Linked DNA regions of Homo sapiens. The protein of the gene in region 2 purifies or fractionates together with the protein of the main gene of each other region. This does not show direct contact. Each region holds a gene or a part of one and is shown on either strand. Other genes may lie near its edges.

Evidence for each region.
Region 1: the proteins of GSTO2 (region 2) and EDRF1 purify together in Homo sapiens (affinity purification with mass spectrometry; 2 studies listed by BioGRID and IntAct, with this or other methods). This does not show direct contact.
Region 3: the proteins of GSTO2 (region 2) and C10orf88 purify together in Homo sapiens (affinity purification with mass spectrometry; 2 studies listed by BioGRID and IntAct, with this or other methods). This does not show direct contact.

What each region holds. Positions count from the first base shown.
Region 1 is NC_000010.11:125,757,685-125,764,642, reverse strand, and holds the end of EDRF1 (erythroid differentiation-related factor 1), read right to left. Parts: intron 1,343-6,958; coding exon 1,171-1,342; 3' UTR 504-1,170; downstream 1-503. UniProt on the Homo sapiens protein: Transcription factor involved in erythroid differentiation. Involved in transcriptional activation of the globin gene.
Region 2 is NC_000010.11:104,293,174-104,300,200, reverse strand, and holds part of GSTO2 (glutathione S-transferase omega-2), read right to left. Parts: intron 2,624-7,027; coding exon 2,517-2,623; intron 1,074-2,516; coding exon 917-1,073; 3' UTR 1-916. UniProt on the Homo sapiens protein: Exhibits glutathione-dependent thiol transferase activity. Has high dehydroascorbate reductase activity and may contribute to the recycling of ascorbic acid. Participates in the biotransformation of inorganic arsenic and reduces monomethylarsonic acid (MMA).
Region 3 is NC_000010.11:122,944,225-122,951,251, forward strand, and holds part of C10orf88 (ATPase PAAT), read right to left. Parts: intron 4,632-7,027; coding exon 4,425-4,631; intron 1-4,424. UniProt on the Homo sapiens protein: ATPase that regulates mitochondrial ABC transporters ABCB7, ABCB8/MITOSUR and ABCB10. Regulates mitochondrial ferric concentration and heme biosynthesis and plays a role in the maintenance of mitochondrial homeostasis and cell survival.

The DNA.
Region 1 (6,958 bases), about 21 Mb from region 2:
CTGTAAAAATTCGGCTTAAAACTAGGTCTTCTAGACAGTTTTCTAGTATAGTTGGAATTCCTTCAGAGGTCTGGCTGGTGTGGGAGCGGGTTCTGGCCACCATGGAGGGCCTGCAGGGAGCTGGCCGAATCTCCAGTGCACCTGCCCCCAGGCCTACGCAGCAGACCTACCTACAATGGTGTCATGCACAGAAGTCCAGACCTTCACCTCACCTCGAAAGAGCCTGTTTTATCTGTTACACTGTCTTGAAATTGAAAATATGAATTATGAACGAAAACAGCCTTGTGCACTGTAGCCATTACAAAGAACAGGGGATGTTTGTGTGTAACTGGACAAGAGCCATGTAGCAGCAGCAATAAGTAAAATATTCTAGGGAGAATTTAGTGGACAGCAGAATTTTACTTTTAATGTTTTGAGCTTTGCTTTGTAAAGTTTATTAATTTTAGACTGAGTTCAAATCAAAACTCAATGTGAAGAATGGAAATTGGAAAAATACAAAGACATTTTAAATAAATAGTTTATTTATTCAAAATAGTTTTCTTACCTTATTCACAGTTTCAAGTTTGAAATGAAAAAAAGGGGTAGTACCTGTTCTTGATCAACTGTCATATAAAGTCAAAAGTGAATCCTTTCAGAACATGCATTAAATACAGCAAATTGCACAACAGCTCGTCTTTGAAAAATCCTGCACTGAAGCTTATGAAGAACACACCTTTTTTCTGGACAATTTAAAAGGAAACACTGTAGATGTACAGGAGGTCTCCTTAACCCACTTGAACCTGTAATGTCATCTGGATAAAAGTTCTCTTGACCAAAGTAACATTTTATCCAAAATAATCATATCTTAGACCCGTGTAGCTTGACATACTTCAAAAATACGTGAAAGTGTAACTGCATCACAGCAGGTCTGTTAATACCGAGGTACTACATACTTCTCAAAGACATAAATAGTGGAAGCTTTAAGTTTGATTCTGATGTTAGCACTTCAAGTGAAGAAGCCACAGAACTCAACCGTAATTTGTCTGTCACTTAAAATAACTCTGTGTTTCCACTGATATACCTGTTTTAAATGGATATTTCCCTATTATTTAATGAAACAAAGCACCGAATGAACAAACCGGCTCCGTGTTGAAGGCACTGACAGCGTGTCTGGGACACGGCTCTGTGCAGTCACTGAACGGCATTGCTGCTCGCTGCACTGCCGGCGGCAAGCTGGCCCAGCAGGTGGACGATAACGTTGATTCTTTCCAGAAGAGTCGCGGTTTTATTTGCAGTTGCTCTCAAAAGCTGGGAGTAAATGTGCTTGTTGGTTTTGAGAATTGTGTCATCTTCGATGTTATTGCTAGGGTTAAAAAAGAAAAAGAGACAGGTAAGGGACCAGCAATGCCTACCGACAATTCAGAGGTCCAGAAAACCGGACAGTGACAGCCCAACAGTCACTCTTCACAGAGCAGCAGGCATTCCTCTCCTGCCGGGTTCAGACCTGCCTTCTTTTACATATTGCTCATGGGCCTGTTTCTACACATTTATTTCAATACATCAATGAAATCCAGTACTCATTCCTTTTATAAATATTTGAATGCCTATTATGTACTAGGAATTGCTCTTGACAGAGAACAAAACAGGCAAAAAGAAGCCCCTGCCTTATGGAATTTGCATCCTATTGAGGTAGGAGTTTGGGGGAGGGGAGGGGAGGCACTGGGGGAAACCATAGTAAACAAGAGAGTGACAGACGGACGGCCATGAAGAAAATGCAGTGGAGCCGGGTGAGGGCACAGAAGGAGCTATGCAGTATTTCCTCTGTTCCTCAAGCTCGGCCTAAGCGCCTTCCTGTGTCATAAACACACATCTAAAGCCACTGTTGTACTGCCGTCTCTAGAGCTAGAACTACCTAGGATTTAAACATGGATTCCTGAATTACAAGAACTGCTGCATCTCAGTTTACTCTGAAAATGTCAGTGCAATTCTGTGTGAAGACTGCCCCTCAGCTGAAGAGTACTAGACAGTACTCTACCTGAAAACTATTTCAGTTTACAGTTTGTCCTGAAAACATTTACCCCTTATGATGGATCGGTGAATTCTATTTTTGTTACTACTGGAAAAGACTAGTAATTACGTGGCAGTTCATATCTAGCATCTTTTTTTTTTTTTTTAAATGAGTCCAGGTGGAGACCCCTGGCTCACATAACCAGATACCAGGTAACAATTCCACAACTCTTTTCAGTGTCCATGAACACATCTGAGCCTTACAATAATCCCATCCCCTCAGATAGGCAAGGACTAGCATTTTGAATTTACAGATGTAAAACCTAAGGCCCAGAAGGGTTAACAGTTTGGACTAAGGTCAAAATGTCATGTTTTCCAATTTCAAATGCTATGCTCTTTCACCTCTTCAGGGTACAAATTTTCTCCCTTCACCCAAGGGCTTGCCAGTCAGGCCTGCCACAGAGCAGCCAGCATGCAGAGCTCCCTTCCCCAGGAGTTCCCCTTTCTATTATTCCTGGCTCCATTCCTCCTCCACAGGATCCCCATCGCTGCCTTTAGACATTTCTCCCCTCCAATTCCCACTTATTTTATCAGGCAAATCTCCTCCTGCCTTCCCCCAACAACCACAGTACAGCAAGTGACTGTTCCAAATGCATTCCCTATCTGTAATCTGGGCCTAAGATTGGCTAGATTTTAGTTTTGTGGGGAGTTAACAGTCACAAAACCTTTGATAATCTTATAGAAAATTTAAATTACTCTGACAGTAATCAAGGCATTAGCACTTAACAATTAGAAAAGGCATTTGAAAGATGACTTATTCTTTGTGGACAATGACATCACACTGTCATTTTATTAATAGTTGGGTGCCTAAAGATAATTGATGGCTGCAGGGATCATAAACTTAAAATCTTTTGATTTGTCCTAACCATAACTCTGAATCTTAAATCTTCATCTTCCAATTTCTACAAATCACGCCTTCCTTAATGCATTCTTATCAGCAGTTTCACTGACCTATGACCCCTATTCAGAGGGCTCCATCATCTCACAGGCTTTTTCTAAAGGGAACTAACTTACATTCTTTCATCTCCCTTTTTACTAATCTTAACAAAATATTAAATGTACACATCTAATGGGAACAACCCATGAATCCAAAGGATCTGTTCTTAGCACTGCAGCAGAGAGCTCCCTGAATCTTCAGAGATTACTTCTACTTTTTATGGTATTTCATTATATTAAACCGCAAAGCCACCAAAATGTTAAGAGGCCTGGATCTGTGAAAGCAATGAATATTAAAATACAGTAGAAGAGTAAATTCTAAATTCAAAAAGAGAAAAGAGAAAACCTTTGGCCTAACAAACTGCTACTGCTAGAATTTCTAGCAGGTCAATGCCAATGCAGTTGTCATATGATGATGAAATGCCTGCATCACCTGAAAATGAAAACAAAAATTTTTTTTAAACAAGTAAAATGCATCTTTCACTCTAATTCTATAGGAATCTAATAAACTTAAGATTTTAATTATTAAGCCTTGTTTATTTTTTTGCCAGAGGGCATGAAGTGGAAAAAGCAGTAGTCAAAAAATAAAACAAAAATTTGTTTAACATGGCCTCTCAGTATCTGTGGAGGATTGGTTCCAGGACCCTCCAGGAAACTAAAATTTGAGGAGGCTGGAGTCCCTGATATAAAATGGTGCAGCATTTGCATTTAGGCTGTGTACATCTTCCTATATACTTTAAATCAACTCTAGATGACTTATAATACCTAATACAATGTCAATGCCATATAAATAGTTGTTATACTATATTGCTTTTTAAATTTGTATTATTTTTTATTTATTTAATATTTTCAGTCTGTGGTTGGTTGAATCTGTGGATGCAGAATCCTTGGATACAGAGGGCTGATTGCATTTTCTTTCTTTTAGGTCTCATTCTGATTTCTCTCTATATTGCAAAAGAGAATGTTCATGTATTCACTGTGAAACAACTAAGCCTGTGGCAGAGGGTATTTTCCTCTTAACAATAAAATTATAGATGTTTTCATTTGCACATCAGTGAAAAATGAAATAGTCACTGACTTAGTAATTAATATTTTTGTTTTGAAACTTGTCAAAGTGTTTATTTTATTAACACATTATCACATTTAAGTTTAATAAACCTTAAAATCAATATAAATTAGCTAAATAAGATTGTATGTGTCATGCATGAAAACTTTAGATTACAATAGTTTTCAGCAGAATATTAATAACCTAAATAAACAGAAGCTTAGAAAACCTTCCATTAAAATAAAAATTACTTAGGTCATACATATGACTGTTACAGTTATAAAAGATAAAACTGAAACTATTACCTATTACCAATTACTCAAATGATTGACTTGTGAAAAATCAATGAATCACTTTTTCTCATGTATCATATATTTATATTACCATCTTGTGGAAACCAATACAAATTTAAAAACTTTACCCACTGCTGTTAGAAAAAGGCAGGAATTCTTTCCAAGCCTTGTTACCATATGCAGTATCTGCTCCGCCTTAGGGCTCTTCAAAAAGATGGATGTCTCTGCTAAATTACAGTGAGTGTATCAACACCCGCTGCTGTGTACCACAACCAGGATATGGTGCAGACACTGTGGATTAACAACCAAATAAGGCCAGGCGCGGTGGCTCACACTTGTAATCCCGGCACTTTGGGAGGCTGAGGCAGGTGGATCATGAGGTCAGAAGATCGAGACCATCCTGGCTAACACGGTGAAACCCCGTCTCTACTAAAAATACAAAAAATTAGCCGGGTGTGGTGGCGGATGCCTGTAGTCCCAGCTACTCGGGAGGCTGAGGCAGGAGAATGGCGTGAACCTGGGAGGCGGAGCTTGCAGTGAGCCGAGATTGCGCCACTGCACTCCAGCGTGGGCGACAGAGCGAGACTCTGTCTCAAAAAAAAAAATAAATAAAAATAAAAACACACACAACCAAATAAAAGCTCTCCTTAGACTATAGAGAATTATTCAAAAGCCATTTTTTTTCTTTTTTTTAAAGAGTTGGGTTTTGCTCTGTCTCCCAGGCTGGAGTGCAGTGGTGCCATCAGAGCTTGCTGTGGCCTTGAACTCCTGGGTTCATGTAATTCTCCTGCCTCAGTCTCCCAAATAGCTGGGATCACAGGTGTAAGCCATGGCACTTAGTTCAAAGGCAATTATTGAAAGAAGTTTCTATTCATGGTGCAGAACCGGAAAAAGTCTCTGGCTCAAGCAGGGCAAACTACAAGGTCATGGCTCTTCTTAAATCCATGAGAGAGGTGGGGCAGCCAACTAGCCTGCAATCTAAGGAGAGACAGGCTGATACAGGGAGAGAAAGGACAGTCCTTCCTTACCTGGGGCAGATGCAGCCAGATGCCAGTAAGCATTTAGCTAAAATAGTGAATGGGTTGGTGGGGGCCCAGTGAGGCTGGTGAGAAAGTATAGGGCCTCTGTGGAGTCAGGGGGTTCACATCTTCTTACTGGCTTTTCTCCAAGGACCTCACCAAATGCCCACATAAAAGACCAGTGAGAATCCTGACAGACTGACCCTCCTGCTGTAGACCTATGACAGGGTAACAGCAGCTGCTATGGGAGGGACCAGCAACCCCACCTGGACCCTTCTCCTCTATGAAACAAAAGACTCAATGGGGGTGGGGGAAGACAATGAACCCTGCCAACCTTAGGGCGTTGGTTAAAGTCAATGAAGAGAGGGGAAGGGAACAGAAAAAAACACTCTGAAGGGTTAGGTGGGGGTGCAGGAGCAGTGGGAAGGCCACAGTCCTGAGACTCAGGGACACGAGTGTCTGCCTGGACTGAGGCTTAAACAACTATGGAGTCCTTGCTAACTCCCTGCTCCCTCCCAAACAGGCGAAAAGGCACCGAAGGACCAGTGACAGTGGAATATGGCTGGAAGAACTGTGAGAGTATAAAGACAGACCCTCTCTAAGGTGCAAAACAAAAGAAAGACCTAGAGCTGAAGGTAGAGAAGACACTAAGAATCACCTTCTGCAGATCTGTTCCACCCTACACACGAGGACTGCTAGGAAAACTTGAAGCCTGTGGTACATGGAAGGTAACCATCGCAATAAAAAAATCTCAACCACAGCTCAACTCCAGGCTAGAAAAATGAATTCCACTTCCCACACTAAAGCCGTAGCAGGGGGAAAGTACAAAAAATTCCAGGCAAAAAAAAAATATTTCTCTTGGTCTCTACTATCATACATAAGGTGTCCAGTTTTCAACAAACAAGAGATATACGGAAGGCAAGGAAAAAACAACATACTTCCAAGAGACAAAGAATCAACAGAACCAGCTAATTATGACACAGATGTTGGAACTATCTCATAGGGAATTTAAAAGGACTATAATTAGTATGTTCAAGACACTAATGGACAAGATGGATGCCACGCAAGGTCAGATTGGTGATTTCAGCAGAGAGCTGGAACTGTAAGAATGAACCCAGGGCAATTGCTAGAAATAAGGAACATTGTAACAGAGACAAAGAATGCCTTCAAAAAGTTCAACTGTAGATGACACAAAACCAAGTAAGGAATCCATGAACTTGAAGACAGTTCAACAGAAATTACCCAAACAAAATCACAAAAAGGAAAAAATGGCATCAAAAAAACCAGAACGGAATATCCAAGAGCTGTGGAATAACATCAAACAGTCTAACATAGGCATAACGGGCTACAGAGGAGGAGAGAGAATGGAACAGAAGAAAGAAAAATGCTGAAGCCAGAGGTAAAAGCCATCACGACACACTCAAGCCTATCATAGTTAAACTGCTGGGGGGTGAGGCGCCTACAGGCAAGGAAGATGCATTTCTAACAGATGAACAAAAGTAGGAAACACAGCTGGCTTCTGGTCAGAAAACACACAGGCCAGAGACAATGGAGTGACATCTTTAAAGTACTGAATGAAAAGGACTGTTAACCCAGAATTCTATACTCTGCTCAAAGAT
Region 2 (7,027 bases):
AATTCTGACGTAGTTAGTCCTGGGTGATAAACCGGTGTTTCATTTCCTGCTTTGGAATTCTTTCCAGTCACAAGACCCTCGGTGTCTCCAGGCCCATGGCCAAAGTTTGGAGAATTACACTCATACTCGCCCACGTGGACAGCGACATTCATTTGCCAAATGGAAGGTATTTAGGTTTGGAGTGTTTTCTTCTTCCTTCTCCCTCTTCTTAAGCTTTCACCAGGGAGGTCTTTGGAGGGTGCCATTCTGTAGTGACAAGCATCAGTCATAGGTTGACCCTGAACCTCAGCATCAGCATCTGCACCAATAATCTGGAGATCAAACTAGGCTGAAGGCCAAGGAGTTAGGAGGCACACAGGCTCCCAAAATGTGCTCTGACATTAGCACCAGGCACTTTCTAGAAAATAGTTAGAAGCTACAGGCTAGGCAGGCCAGGTGGCTCATGCCTGTAATCTCAACACTTTGGAGACCAAGTTGGGTGGATGGCTTGCGGCCAGGAGATGGAGACCAGCCTGAGCAACATAGTGAGACCCTGTCTCAACAACATTTTTTTAAAAATTAGCTGGGCGTGGTGACACATACCTGTAGTCCTAGCTTCTCAGGAGGCTGAGGCGGGAGAATCAACTGAGCCCAGGAGTTCAAGGCTGCAGTGAGCCGACTGTCCCACTGCACTCCAGCCTGAGTAACGAAGCAAGATCTTGCCTCAAAAAAAAAAAGGAAAAAAAAGCAGCAGTAGCAGCAGCTACAGGCTAGAGGAGTCAGACAAATGATTATCAGAAGAATACATTTCCTGTTTTCATTTTATTGGGAACTTCAAAGAAAAGAAAGAGAGACGGATTGGTTCCCAAGACAAGCCGTGACGTAGACTCCCAACAAGCTGGGGAATTCTGGACAGCGAAGGGGTGGACAGTGAGACTCAGCACAGCCCAAAGTCAAAGGCATTAGGGTTGTTCTGAAAATAGAGATTCAAGAAGCCCTGGAAAATGCTCTTATCCATGAGAAGAGCACAGACTGTGGGGTCCCACTTCATGGCTGATATCCAGAGCCGCAGGGCTGGCGTGTGGCTCACACAGCTGCAAGACAGGAAAGAAGCGTCAGCACAGTGCAGGGGTAGGCATCAGGAAAGGGGATGCACGTTGCTTTTTAGATTTGCAAGATATGAAGAATGAGTTTATTTGGGAAGTTATCTTAGTTATCTTATTATCAAGTGAGAATGATAACTTACTGGAGGAAAATCTTATTTTTGGAATAGTTGAATGTTTAGAAGTTGTTGCTTCTAATAATACAGTGAAATACTTTGGACTGATGGCTCTGGGAAAATAACATGTCTGTGCTTCATTTTTTTTGTTTTGTTTTTTAATATATATATATTCTAAAGCTTGAGAAACTTACATGTGCTTCACTGCTTGCCAACAAAAAGACAACCCTCTGAAACAAATATTCTTGGGTCATTCTCAGATTTTACTTTAGGAGATATAAAAAAATAAAGACAAATAATTTCTAAAACATTTTTTAAATGAATAAAACAAGGATGAAACCTTGAAGTCATGGAGCCGACAGGGCTCTTTCAAAGCTCAACCAGGATATTTAGTTCTGGGGTTTATAAAGCAATAAGCTGAAGATAATATGAATGGGTTGTCGGGAATCCAGGACTAGAAGTGAGGTTTCCTAACCTGTGACTCCATGCTCTGTCTTCAGAGGATACAGCCTTTTGTAAATTTTATGTTTGATATTGAGTTTTAAATATCCTGACAAAGAGAGCTGAAGTCGGAAGTGCAGGAGACAGTGGCTGGTTGGGCTCCAGCCCACGGGTTATGAAGGTGCAGACACAGTTCTGCTTCAGCAGGGCCGGATTTCCAAGTGCCAGAAATGTCCAGCACCCACCATGAGGGTGGCTTGGATTAGGGTGGACGTCCGCACACGTCCAGCTTCACTGAGCTTTGAAGTAACACAGCACTGCTCTGCCCAGGAGCCTACACAGCTATTTCTTCTCCTTTAATGTCCCTGCACTTCCATACTTCCATAGTGTGTCACTGCCATTTTGTTTGTATGTTCCAATATCAAGCATATATTACTACACAAATCTTTTTTATAAGGTTATTCCTATCTGGGGGAAGATTCCTCCGGGCAATGAGACATGACTAAGGTTATATGGTGTCCCCTGGGGACCCGTCAGGACCAGGTGGAGGCGTTGGGCACTGTGACTGTGACTGTGACTCTCCACTTGCTCTCAGACCGGCCATGTGGGGGCGCTGGTGAGGACAGCAGGCTCTGAAGTCTGCGGGAGGCTCCTGGGCTAGGGGTCTGATCTGCAGAAATGCGGGCAAAGTGTGGGTCTGAAGTTAGCAGTGGAAAAGCACATATGTTTTTAACAAGGAAGCACACACTGCGGTTTAGAAACCTGATTCACTTCACAGACATCCTGAAACATGTCTACAGGGGGCATGCAGACCATCTTAACCATTGTTACTCAGTGTGACTCCGGGAATTTAACACCACAATGTCAAATGTCTTACTCCAGTATCCCATACACATCCAGCCGCTCAAACCAGGGCCAGAGGAGGTAATCAATCATGGATATACAGGTTCCACCAAAGAAGGTGGTGTTCTGATACTCAAGAATCTAAAAATGGAAACAAAGCAAAAGCAAATAAGTTTATATATCTGCTGACATGTTTATAGACACTAAATGTAAATCTCAAATTAATTCCCAGAGAGGGAGAACTGAGGCCTCTCTCCTTCTCCCTCTGGTTAGGAGAATGCTTCTTCTCTTTCTCTGAGGTCTCCTCTGCCTCTTTTAGGGTCACACTCCTGGCCACCTCTGTCCCTTCCCTCCTTTCAACACTAGAGTGACAGTGTGGCTCATCTGATTGAAGAAACTGGAAGAACAACCTCTACAGAGTACCCCAGTCCCTCCCTCTTAGCCTGGAGCAGCTCCTCAATGTGCTAAGCCTTCCAAGGATAAGCTGAGCCCTGGACAGAGGAGGCTCCCCTTCAGGCCAGCACTGCCCATTACTTGAAGACAAGGTGAGCCTCAGCCTGATGTTGAAGGCTAGCATTAGGAACCCCGCTCAGGATCTCCCATTCTCCAAGATCTGCTTTATCAATAAGAAAGGGGATGCTGCCGGGCCTGGTGGCTCATGCCTGTATTCCCAGCACTTTGGGAGGCCGAGGCGGGTGGATTACCTGAGGTGGGGAGTTCGAGACCAGCCTGACCAACATGGAGAAACCCCGTCTCTACTGAAAATACAAAATTAGCTGGGCATCATGGCACGTGGCTGTAACCCCAGCTACTGGGGAAGCTGAGGCAAGAGAATTGCTTGAACCCGCGAGGCGGAGGTTGTGGTGAGCCAAGATTGTGCCATTGCACTCCAGCCTGGCCAAGAAGAGCAAAAAGTAAAAAAGAAAAAAAGAAAAAAGAAAAGAAAAAGAAAAAAAGAAAGGGGATGCTCTAATCTCCATGCCTTATTATTTTATCTTCTCAATTAATTCAAAACTAAGGCAGGAAAGAGCATCCTATTTAACAGGCCCCCTCAAATTCCAACCTGTGTTCTTCTTCTTCTTTTTTTTTTTTTTTTTTTTTTTTTAGATAGGGTCTTGCTCTGTCACTCAGGCTGGAGTCCAGTAGATCGATCACAGCTCACTGCAGCCTCAACCTCCCGGGCTCAAGCAATCCTTCCACCTCAGCCTCCCAAGTAGCTGGGATTACCCCTGGCTGATTTTTACATTTTTTTTGTAGAGATGGGGTCTTGGGGTCTTGCCATGTTGCCCAGGGGTCTCAAACTCCTGAGCTCAAGGGATCCTCCTGTCTTGGCCTCCCACAGTGCCGGAAATACAGGTGTGAGCCACTGCACCCGGCCCCCAACTCTGTGTTTCTATCACACTTTTTTTTTCATTTGAGCTTTTCAAACTTCACATTTGTTGGCCACTCAACACTATTACTTAATGCATTAAAATAAAATTTCTCATTCCCAAATGAGACAAATCAACCCGGAGGGACTGTAAATCAGATGGACTGTAAAGAAAACAAACTCTCAACAGACAGGCAGCCAAAGACAGCCCCAAAAAAGTACCTGCAAATTTAAAAAAGCGAAAGTGTTTAGCAGAGGTTATTGTTGGTACAGGTCTTCCCAAAGAGAAAAGTATGGCACGAATTACCTGCTTCAATCAAGCAAGCTACTCATTTTGACCTATATAACTCATAATCAACTCAATACTTCCCTATAGCTATAGATCTTGATTGCTGGGCCCAGGTGAGTTGTGGAAATAAGCTATACTCGTGTTTTCATCTGGAAATATCAGGGTTCTGGTGAGGGACAGAGGGCAAAAGGACCAGAATCAAACTGTGGATTAGGGTCCCGGGGCAGGGATGGCACTGGCAGCCAGGAGACACCCAGGCTTGCTTCTTCACATGCCAGGCCAGCTTGTTGACTCTGCTGTGGGGTGATTCAGAGTTGTAGGTAAGGATGTGAGCTTGGGAACCAGCAGACTTGGTCCTGTGCTGTGTGCTGAGCTTGACCTCTGATTCAGCATGGAACCTGGGGCAACTTACCTCCCCTGCAAGCCTCCATGTTCTCATCTGCAAAATGGTGGTCATGTTAGCACGCACCACGGAGGTTATGGTGAGGAGTAAAATCACCATGTATGAAGAACACTCTGGCCCCACTGAGTAAATATGAGCTCCTGTGATGAGTGGGAACACAGGCCCCTGAAGGTGACACCCACAGAAAGCAAATCCATCCCTGATAGAAAGGATCAATGGGCTCCTCCACCTGCCACCCCTTCTCAGAGGGGTTGCCCTAAAGCCTACACCTTCACACCTCCCAGTGTGGCATAGAGAAGTCCCCCTGATCATTGTCCTGGAAGTCTGAAAAAACATGTTAGGTGGCATTACCTTGTTCAAGGAAGCTAACAGGATGGCACTAAAACAGCAGGGTCTGACCAGTGAAAACTCAAAACAGAAGCTATTTATAGCCAGGTATGAATAAAATTTGGTTAGAGGGGAAAGGAACAAATCATTCCATTTTTATGGATTCCAGAAGGCTCCAGACTTTATGTTCAGGAATAGATGATCACTACTCAAACTCTTACCACTGGCTTTGAAATGTGTGCCTCCAGTTTGTTATTGGGCTTCACGGCACAAATCAGAACCAAATTTACACCAAGCGACTCTGGAACATCTACACAGCTCTTCTGCTTTACAGAACAGAGGTGTTCTTGGAAAAGTCTTTGTCAAAACAAACCATAAATAGACATTTAATGGAACCCATGGTGGGTCCTTTGGTAAAGTGAGGAGGGAATTTTTAATTAGTAACTGATGTTTATTTAGTGTATATCTCTAAAGCTTTCCATTTACTCAAAGTAGGAGCATGCCTCTAAATATACATGATCTGATGGACACTATCAATTTATATATAAACGCTCATAAAATAACCCAAGCCTTATCAAGGTACTCGGCACAATAAAAAGCTGAGATGAGCATTAGGAATAAATGGATCGGTGATCCTTCACCAGTCCCCCGCTCAGCAAATGCACATACACATTTCCCTCACATTTTCCAAATATGTCTTGAAACCACCCACATCAAAACTACTTGCATTTCCTAATACAGCTGCAGATTATTGAGCCCCATCCCAGACAGGTATTTTTCCACCAATTTCAAGCAGGGTAAGTCTAAAATCCCAACAGAAAAGCTGTCTTTCCCTAAACTAGCACAAAGTGCTCACTCCTTTACAGACGTAGGAGAACATCCTGGACAGGCCTCCCTGGAGGTCTGCTGAAGTCCTCAGGACTCTCGATAGGAGAGTTCCCTTCTGTGCAAACCTGGAACCTTCCAGACATGTAAAATTACTTTTTCCCCTTAAGAATCCTGGAAAATTGGGACTGGAAGGACCCCTGAAACTCATCTAAGTGGGACCTCCTCATTTCACCATTTATTTCTACCATGATCATTACACAAAGGATTAGAAGTGTAGTGTAAAAATGTGCACTACATACTAAATATGAAAAATAATAAAATGCTATAATCAGGGAAAACGCAAGTTGGAACAGAAGGTCAAAAACCAGGAAGGAAAACAGTATCAAGATATCACGTCCTGGGTCCTGCAGAGTTCCTTCAATAAAGCCTTGAATTTGACTCTTGAGTTTCCTGGCAGCCAAAGGGGAGAGGAAAACATGCTGGTGATGTGATTCTTGTCTCCCATGGGGAAGGACAGGGGAGCCTTGCTGTGCAGAGGAGGAAACCCAGTCCCAGGGAGGTTAACGGGCTCTCCGGTTTGCACTGGAACTAACACGCATATCACATTTTCCTAATTCTCTGACTAGTGTCAACCCTGTGTCATTCAATTCAAATATGTATTTTTAGACTCTAATGAAAAGCTTCCTTAAATTGCTTGAGCCAAGGAGTTTGAGACCAGCCTGAGAAACACGGTGAAACCCCGTCTCTACAAACAATACGAAAATTAGCTGGACGTGGTGGTGGCACCTGTAGTCCTAGTGATGCCTGTAGTCCTAGCTACTAAGGAGGCTGAGGTGGAAGGATCACTTGAGGCTGGGAGGTCAAGGCTGCACTAAGCTGTGAACATGCCACTGCACTCTAGAGAAAGACCTTGTCGCAAAAAAAAAAAAAAAAAAAAAATTGGCCAGGCGCAGTGGCTCATGCCTGTAATCACAGCAATTTGGGAGGCCGAAGTGGGCAGATCACTTGAGCCCAGAAGTTTGAGACCAACCTGGGCAACAGGGTGAGACCCCATCTTAAAATAAATAAATAAACAGAACAAAATAAAAATAAAAAAGCTTCCTCAAGTCTCTTGTGAATTCTTTTCTGTAAGAATGAAAAAGAATACCATGACTTGATATCTTGATACGGTTTTCCTTCCTGTTTCTTGACCTTCTGTTCCAGCTTTAAATTTAAGTAACAGAAAAAAGCTTGGAACCAGCAAACTCTGAAAGCTCCTCCTTCTCTACAGCCAAGGATTGGTTCGGCTCTGAGCTTCTCTGTGAAAAGAATTTCCTCCTTAGTCTCACC
Region 3 (7,027 bases), about 19 Mb from region 2:
GGGACATGGATGAAATTGGAAACCATCATTCTCAGTAAACTCTCACAAGAACAAAAAACCAAACACCGCATATTCTCACTCATAGGTGGGAATTGAACAATGAGAACACATGGACACAGGAAGGGGAACATCACACTCTGGGGACTGTTGTGGGGTGGGGGGAGGGGGGAGGGATAGCATTGGGAGATATACCTAATGCTAGATAACGAGTTAGTGGGTGCAGCGCACCAGCATGGCACATGTATACATATGTAACAAACCTGCACATTGTGCACATGTACCCTAAAACTTAAAGTATAATAATAATTAAAAAAAAGAGTTATTATCAAATCACAATGTACATAAAACTCACTTAGACATGACTGTTTAAAACACTGATTCCTGGACCCCACCCTCTGGGATTGAGTAGATAGTGAGGGCCAGGAATCTGCATTTTGAAGACCTTCCAAAGGATTCTGACACAGGTGTTCAATGGAGTGTACTTGAAAAAATACACTGCCCTAAATAAATTCTTAATAAAGCTCAAATCTCACAAGCTTTTCAAATTCCTTATTTATCTTCAATATTCCTTTACACAAGTATCTAATTTCCTCTTTATCTCTAAACTTGAAAAAAAAAAACCTGTGTGCACTTAGTAACTCCACATCCCAAATACCCAGTTACTACCTAATCCCTCACAATTTGGTTTACATCTCATCACTATTCAAACTTACTCCCTGAGGATCTCCAAGAAATAGCTGATCAATCCAATAGGTGTGTGTGTATATATATGTGTATATATATATATGTATATAGATATATGCGTGTATATATGTGTATATATATATGTATATAGATATATGCATGTATATATACGTATATATATATGTATGTATAGATAGATATATGTATGTGTCACATTACAATGTTTTGGTCCACAATGGACCCACATATGACAGTGGTCCCATAAGATTACAATGGAGCTAAAAAATTCCAGTCCCCAAGTGGTATCATAGTAACACATTACTCACATGTTTGTGGCAATGTTGGTGTAAACCAACCGATTGCACACTGCCAGTCATATAAAAGTATAGCATGTACAATTATGTATACTGTATACTACTTAGTAATAATAATCAATGACTATGTTGCTGGTTTATGTATTTACTATACCATATTTTTAGTCTTAAAGTATATTCCTTCTGCTTATATGTTTTAAAAGTTAACTGTAAAACCACCTCAGGCAGGTCCTTCAGGAGGTCTTCCAGAAGAAGGCATTATTATTATACAAGATGACAGCTCCATGGGTATTACTGTCCCTGAAGACCTTCCAGTGGGACAAGATATGGAGGTGGGAGACAGTGATACTTATGATCCTGACCCTCTGTAGGCCTAGGGTAATGTGTATGTTTGTGTCTTTGTTTTAAGCAAAAAAGTTTAAAACTTAAAAAAAAATTAAATACAAAAAAAGCTTAATAGAAAAAGGATATAAAGAAACCAAATATATTTGTACAGCTATACAATGAGTTTGTGTTTTAAGCTCTTTACTACAAAAGAGTCAAAAAGTTTTTTAAAATTTAAGTATATAAAGTTAAAAAGTTACGATAGGCTGGGCATGGTGGTTCACGCCTGTAATCCCACCCAGTACTTTGGGAGGCCAAGGCAGGTGATCACCTGAGAACCTGGAGTTCGAGACCAGCCTGGCCAACATGGTGAAACACCGTATCTACTAAAAATAAAAAAATTAGTCTGGTGTGGTGGCATGCGCCTGTAATCCAGCTACTCAGGGGCCTGAGGTAGGAGAATTGCTTGAACCCAGGAGGCAGAGGTTGCAGTGAGCTGAGATCATACCACTGCACTCCAGCCCAGATGACAGAGGAAGACTCTGTCGCAAAAAATAAAAAAAAAAAAGTTACAATAAGCTAAGCTTAATTTATTATTGAAAAATAAAAAATGTTTAAAGAAATTTAGCATAGCCTAAATGTGCAGTGTTTATAAAGTCTACAGTAGTGTACAGTAATGTTCTAGGCCTTCATATTCAGTTACTGACTTACCTAGAGTAACTTCTAGTCCTGCAAGTTCAGTTCATGGTAAGTGCCCTATACAGGCGTGCCATTTTTCATCTTGTATACTATATTTTTACAGTACCTCTTCTATGTTTAGATACACAAATCCTTACCATTATAACTGCCTAGAGTATTCTGTAAAGTAACATGCTATACAGGTTCGTAACCTAGGTACGTAGTAGGCTATATGATCTAGGATTCTGCAAGTACATACCATGATGGTTTCATAACCATGAAATCCCCTAATCACCTTTGTTCTCAGAACATATCCCCACTGTGAATTGATGCATGACTGTGTATAATACTTGGAGCCATAAACAAGACAGATAAGTCTTGTTTACATGAAGCTTGTCTTTTAGTGAGATAAACATGCAACCAATACAAAAACAACAACAAAGTGGTCAAAAGGGCACTGATGAAACTGATACGGATTTGGAGGTACATGCTACTTTACACTGGTTGGCTAAGAAAGGTGTCATTAAAGATGTAACATTAAAATGAGATCTGAATAAGAAAAATGCAGATACAGAAGTATCACAGGGAGGGAGTTCTGGCCACAGAGAACAGTTATGAGTGCAAAGGTCTGGAGGTGGGAACATATCTAGATATTTACGGAATACACATATCAGAATGTCTGGAGCAAGCTGCCCAAGGAAACATGGCAGGAGATGAGGTTGAGAAGGCAAGCAGGGCCTACATTTTAGAGATTAAGGTAAGGAATCAGGATTAATTCTAAGTACAAAGGGAGGCAAGCAGTCAGGGGGCTTTGCACAGGAGAAGGATGAGATCCAATTATCCTTTGAGGTCATTCTCGGTACATTGTGGAAAACAGATTGTAGCAGGACAGGTGGGCCAGTTAGGAATCTCCTGAGGTATCCAGGTGAGAACATGGTGTGGGAGGAAGAAAAGTATACATTTCCATCTTTTTTGAAATTCTTCTTTCTGTGGTTTCCATAATCTTCAGCTCTCCTGGTTCTCTTAACTCAGCCCATATTATAATACTGGTACTACATTAATATTTGTGAACCACACAACATCTACAAGGAGTTCTTTACTTGCATTACTTATTTTAAATTTTCACATCAATTCTGTGATCCTTACAGTGTTATCATTTAGATTTTGTACATGAGGAATTCATATTGAAAAAAATATTAATTAACTTGCCATAGGATGCAGAACTAAGAAGAGGCAGGACAAGAGTTTGAAGTCACTTTACCTGACATCAAATCGTTTCTCTTGCTACTCTATCACACTGCTGCCTTCTATGTTTCTGGTTCCTTTTTCCTCTCCCTTCACCACCCTCCGTCAGCTACTGTGGGTACACCCCTAAACTTCCCTTCCAGCCACTGAAGGTTCATTCCATTTCTCCTAATCCTCTGTTTCCAGATGTTTGCAACATCCTTCCAGGGAATGTCTTATTCACAGCTAAAAGTCAATGTTCCCAAAATTAAATTCCTTTTTCCTCCAAGCATCCTCCTCCTTTGGGCTGCATTTATATTATTAGTATCACCATCTTCAAAGCCTCAATTTCATGTTTAACTTGATTTTTCTATCATAATACCAATATTAAGTTAGCTGTCAAGTCCCAATGGCTCCATCATTTTAGCATCATTTAGCATCCAGCATTATGTTACTACGTCCAATCTTAGACCTCATTCACTCTCATCTGGACGAGGGGAATGACGTGCAGCTCATCTTCTCCTTGTAGTCTCACTTTCTTCAGATTCACCTTACACTTGACAGTGGCTTAAAATTTCTTGAAACATAAGTCAAAAACATCTACAAATTTAAACCAGCATCCCAAGCTGTTTATGATCTAGCTGAAATCTACTTTAAACTTTGCCTATTACTTTTTTGCTTCAGAGAAATGAACTACCATTCATTTCCCAGCTATATCAAATTCTTCTAGCATTGAAGATTTTATTCACCTTATTTTTTGTCTGAAATGGCCTTCTTCCAAATTTACTTGTCTAATCCCACCCTACATTTTAAAGGCCTAGATAAAATACCACTTCTTTTAGTGAGCCTTTCCTTAGTGTTTTCATCATTCCCCACTTACATGCTCCAGAATGTAAAAATTCTTAAAGACTACAGATTAACTGACCATCTTCGCACACTCAAAATTGCTCAAACCAGTGCCTTGTTTACTGCAAGAAAAAAATCTTGCTGAATGAATGAATGCATTCATAAAAAGTGTGAAAATGTGTAGTCAAAACACTTTGTAGAAGGGCAAATCTAACAAATGTTAACTTCTACAAAACTAAAAGATAACAGTTAAATCAGTATGAAAGAAAAATTTTAAGTCACTACATTTCTTTACTAAAAGCAATGGTTTTGAAATCATTAATGTTATCTGGAAAGAAATCCATTTCTACTTACCCGCTGCTGACACCTAACCATATCCATCAACTGCTGAGCTCCAGGAGATAACTTTGACCCCATGGACTCCATTATGGTTTGGACCTTGTCAAGGTCTATCCTTGATCCTAGAGCAGGAGAGCTTGTTGAAGAATTTGCAAAAACTGATCTCATGTGTACCACAACTTTACTGATGAACACACACTGCCTTTCGCCAAAGGAGAGCAACTATTATAAAACAAAAGTTCCAGAAAAGAATGATATTAAAAACAATAATCATTTAATGTAACTTCTTGGTATGACCTAAACAAGAGTGAAGTATTCAAGAATCTAAAAATTAACTTCAAGTATATTTTAAACTTTTCTCTAGAACAGCAATAGTCAGGAAAAATTCCAATTTATCATGAGGCTCAGATGAACTATTTAAATAAGAGTCCTTTCAAAAATTAAGACTTCATGTAAAATAACAAATGAGGTGATTAAATAAATGTTTACCTATTTAAAGAACTAAAAATAAACTATAGTAGTTCCTCTTTATCTGTGGAGAATGTGTTCTAAGACCTCCAGTGGCTCCCTGAAATTGCATATAGTACCAACCCCTATATTTTTTCCTATACATACATACCTATGATAAAGTTTAATTTATAAATTAGGTATAGTAAGAGTTTAACAATAGAGTAATTTTGACAACATAATAAAAGTTATGTGAATATGGTCTCCTCTCTCTAAATCTTACTGTGCAATACTTACCCTTCCTGTAATGACGTGACATGATAAAATGCCTACATAATGAGATGAAGTGAGGTGAATGACACAGGCATTGTAATACAGGATTAGGCTACTACTGACCTTCTGATGATACATTTGGCTAGTAAGTGGCTAATGGGCAGTAACATATACAGCAGGGACATACTAGACAAAAGGATGATTCATGTTCCAGACAGGACTGAGCAGGATGGCAGGAGATTCGATCACACTACGCTGAATGAAGCACAATTTAAAACTTATGAATTGTTTATTTCTGAAATTTTCCATTTAATATTTTTGGACCTCAGTTGACTGTGGGTAATGGAAACTGTGGAAAGTGAAACTGCAGATAAAGGAGAACTGCTATATACCAATCTGAGACCTTAACACACCACAACTTGCTACTTAACACAAAATAAGTCTGTCCAAATGCTCATGTAAAACGTTTACTGAAATAAGTAAAATGCAATCCTTTCAAATTCAGAACTATAAGAGAATATCAAAATGATGTAATATAGCTTGCTGGATTACACATAGAAATGATGACTTCAAGGGTGATTTTTCTAACTTGTTAAAGGACACTCAATTAGTAAAGAACCAGCTTGAAACCTATCTCTTCTGGCTTCTATCCCTGTAGTTTATCCAACATTTTATCCTGTCCATATTTCTGAAACGAGACATTTCATGTATGGTACAGACAACAGAGTAGCAAAATGGAAAGGGAACGGACTTTAGAATCAGACAAACCTAAGTTTAACTTACGACTCTGGTACTTAACAACCTGTGTGACCCTGGGCAAATGCTAAATCTGAGTCAGGATAAAAATGAGAGAAGACAGTAGCAATGATTTCACATAGTTGTTGCGAGGATTATATGTTAAAATTTCCAGTAGCTACCAGTAAGTAAGTGCTCAAAAACCTGTATAAGTAACCATTTTTTTATTTGAACTTCCATATACTATTGCCTCAGAACAAGCTTTCATATCAATCCTAGAGCTTCCCTGAAATAACCCTTTGCACTCCCATGTACCTCCATTGAACAGTTAAAAAAACATTCACCTTCAGAGAGACACACAGGTCCACATGTCAAACAAGGACATAGGTCAATACAGACTCATGATCCAAGAACTCTTAAGTGTTGAACCAAAGATGTGACTGTCTTCAACATTTTAAGGAAACACTCTTATTAACCTCCTACCTCTCAACCTCTCTATTATCCCCCTTTCTCTTTTTAACCCCATAGCCTTTTTCACCATTAAATATAGTATTTATTTTACTCATTGAGTCTCCTTATTGTCTGTCTTGCCCACTAGAATACAAGCAACATAAGTTCAGGCATTTCAGTTTATTTTCTTATTGCTAATTCCTAAATGACTGGTATAGTACCTGACATTAAGAGGCACTCAAATCTTTGTTGAATGAAGAAATTACTTTATTCAAATGGTTTTAGAAGCTATTTAATATATACTATCCAAAACAACATCTTGGGATAATCAGTCCTGTGAGTTTGCTATCTGCCTGTAAAAATCACTTATTTTTTCTTATTGTAAAAATAGGTTTCAATCTTCTATAAGTAATGATAATAAGTACAGAAGTTTAGAGATAAAAAGAATCCAAGAATTTTCTTCAGCTCTCTAATTTTACCCATGAGATAGGTCCAAAATCTGCCCAAGACTAATCCACTAGTCAGGACAGAACTGAATTAGCATTCAGGGCTTAAGACTTCCAATCCATTACCTTATCCCTAGACTCTGAAGACATAACTAACAGTTACCTTAACAATATTTTTCATGCTGAAGACAACAGTCCAATCCCTTTAACTTATTGGTTCTCTTGCTTGAAACTTCTCTAATTTTGTTCTTTTATAAATGGGTTTTT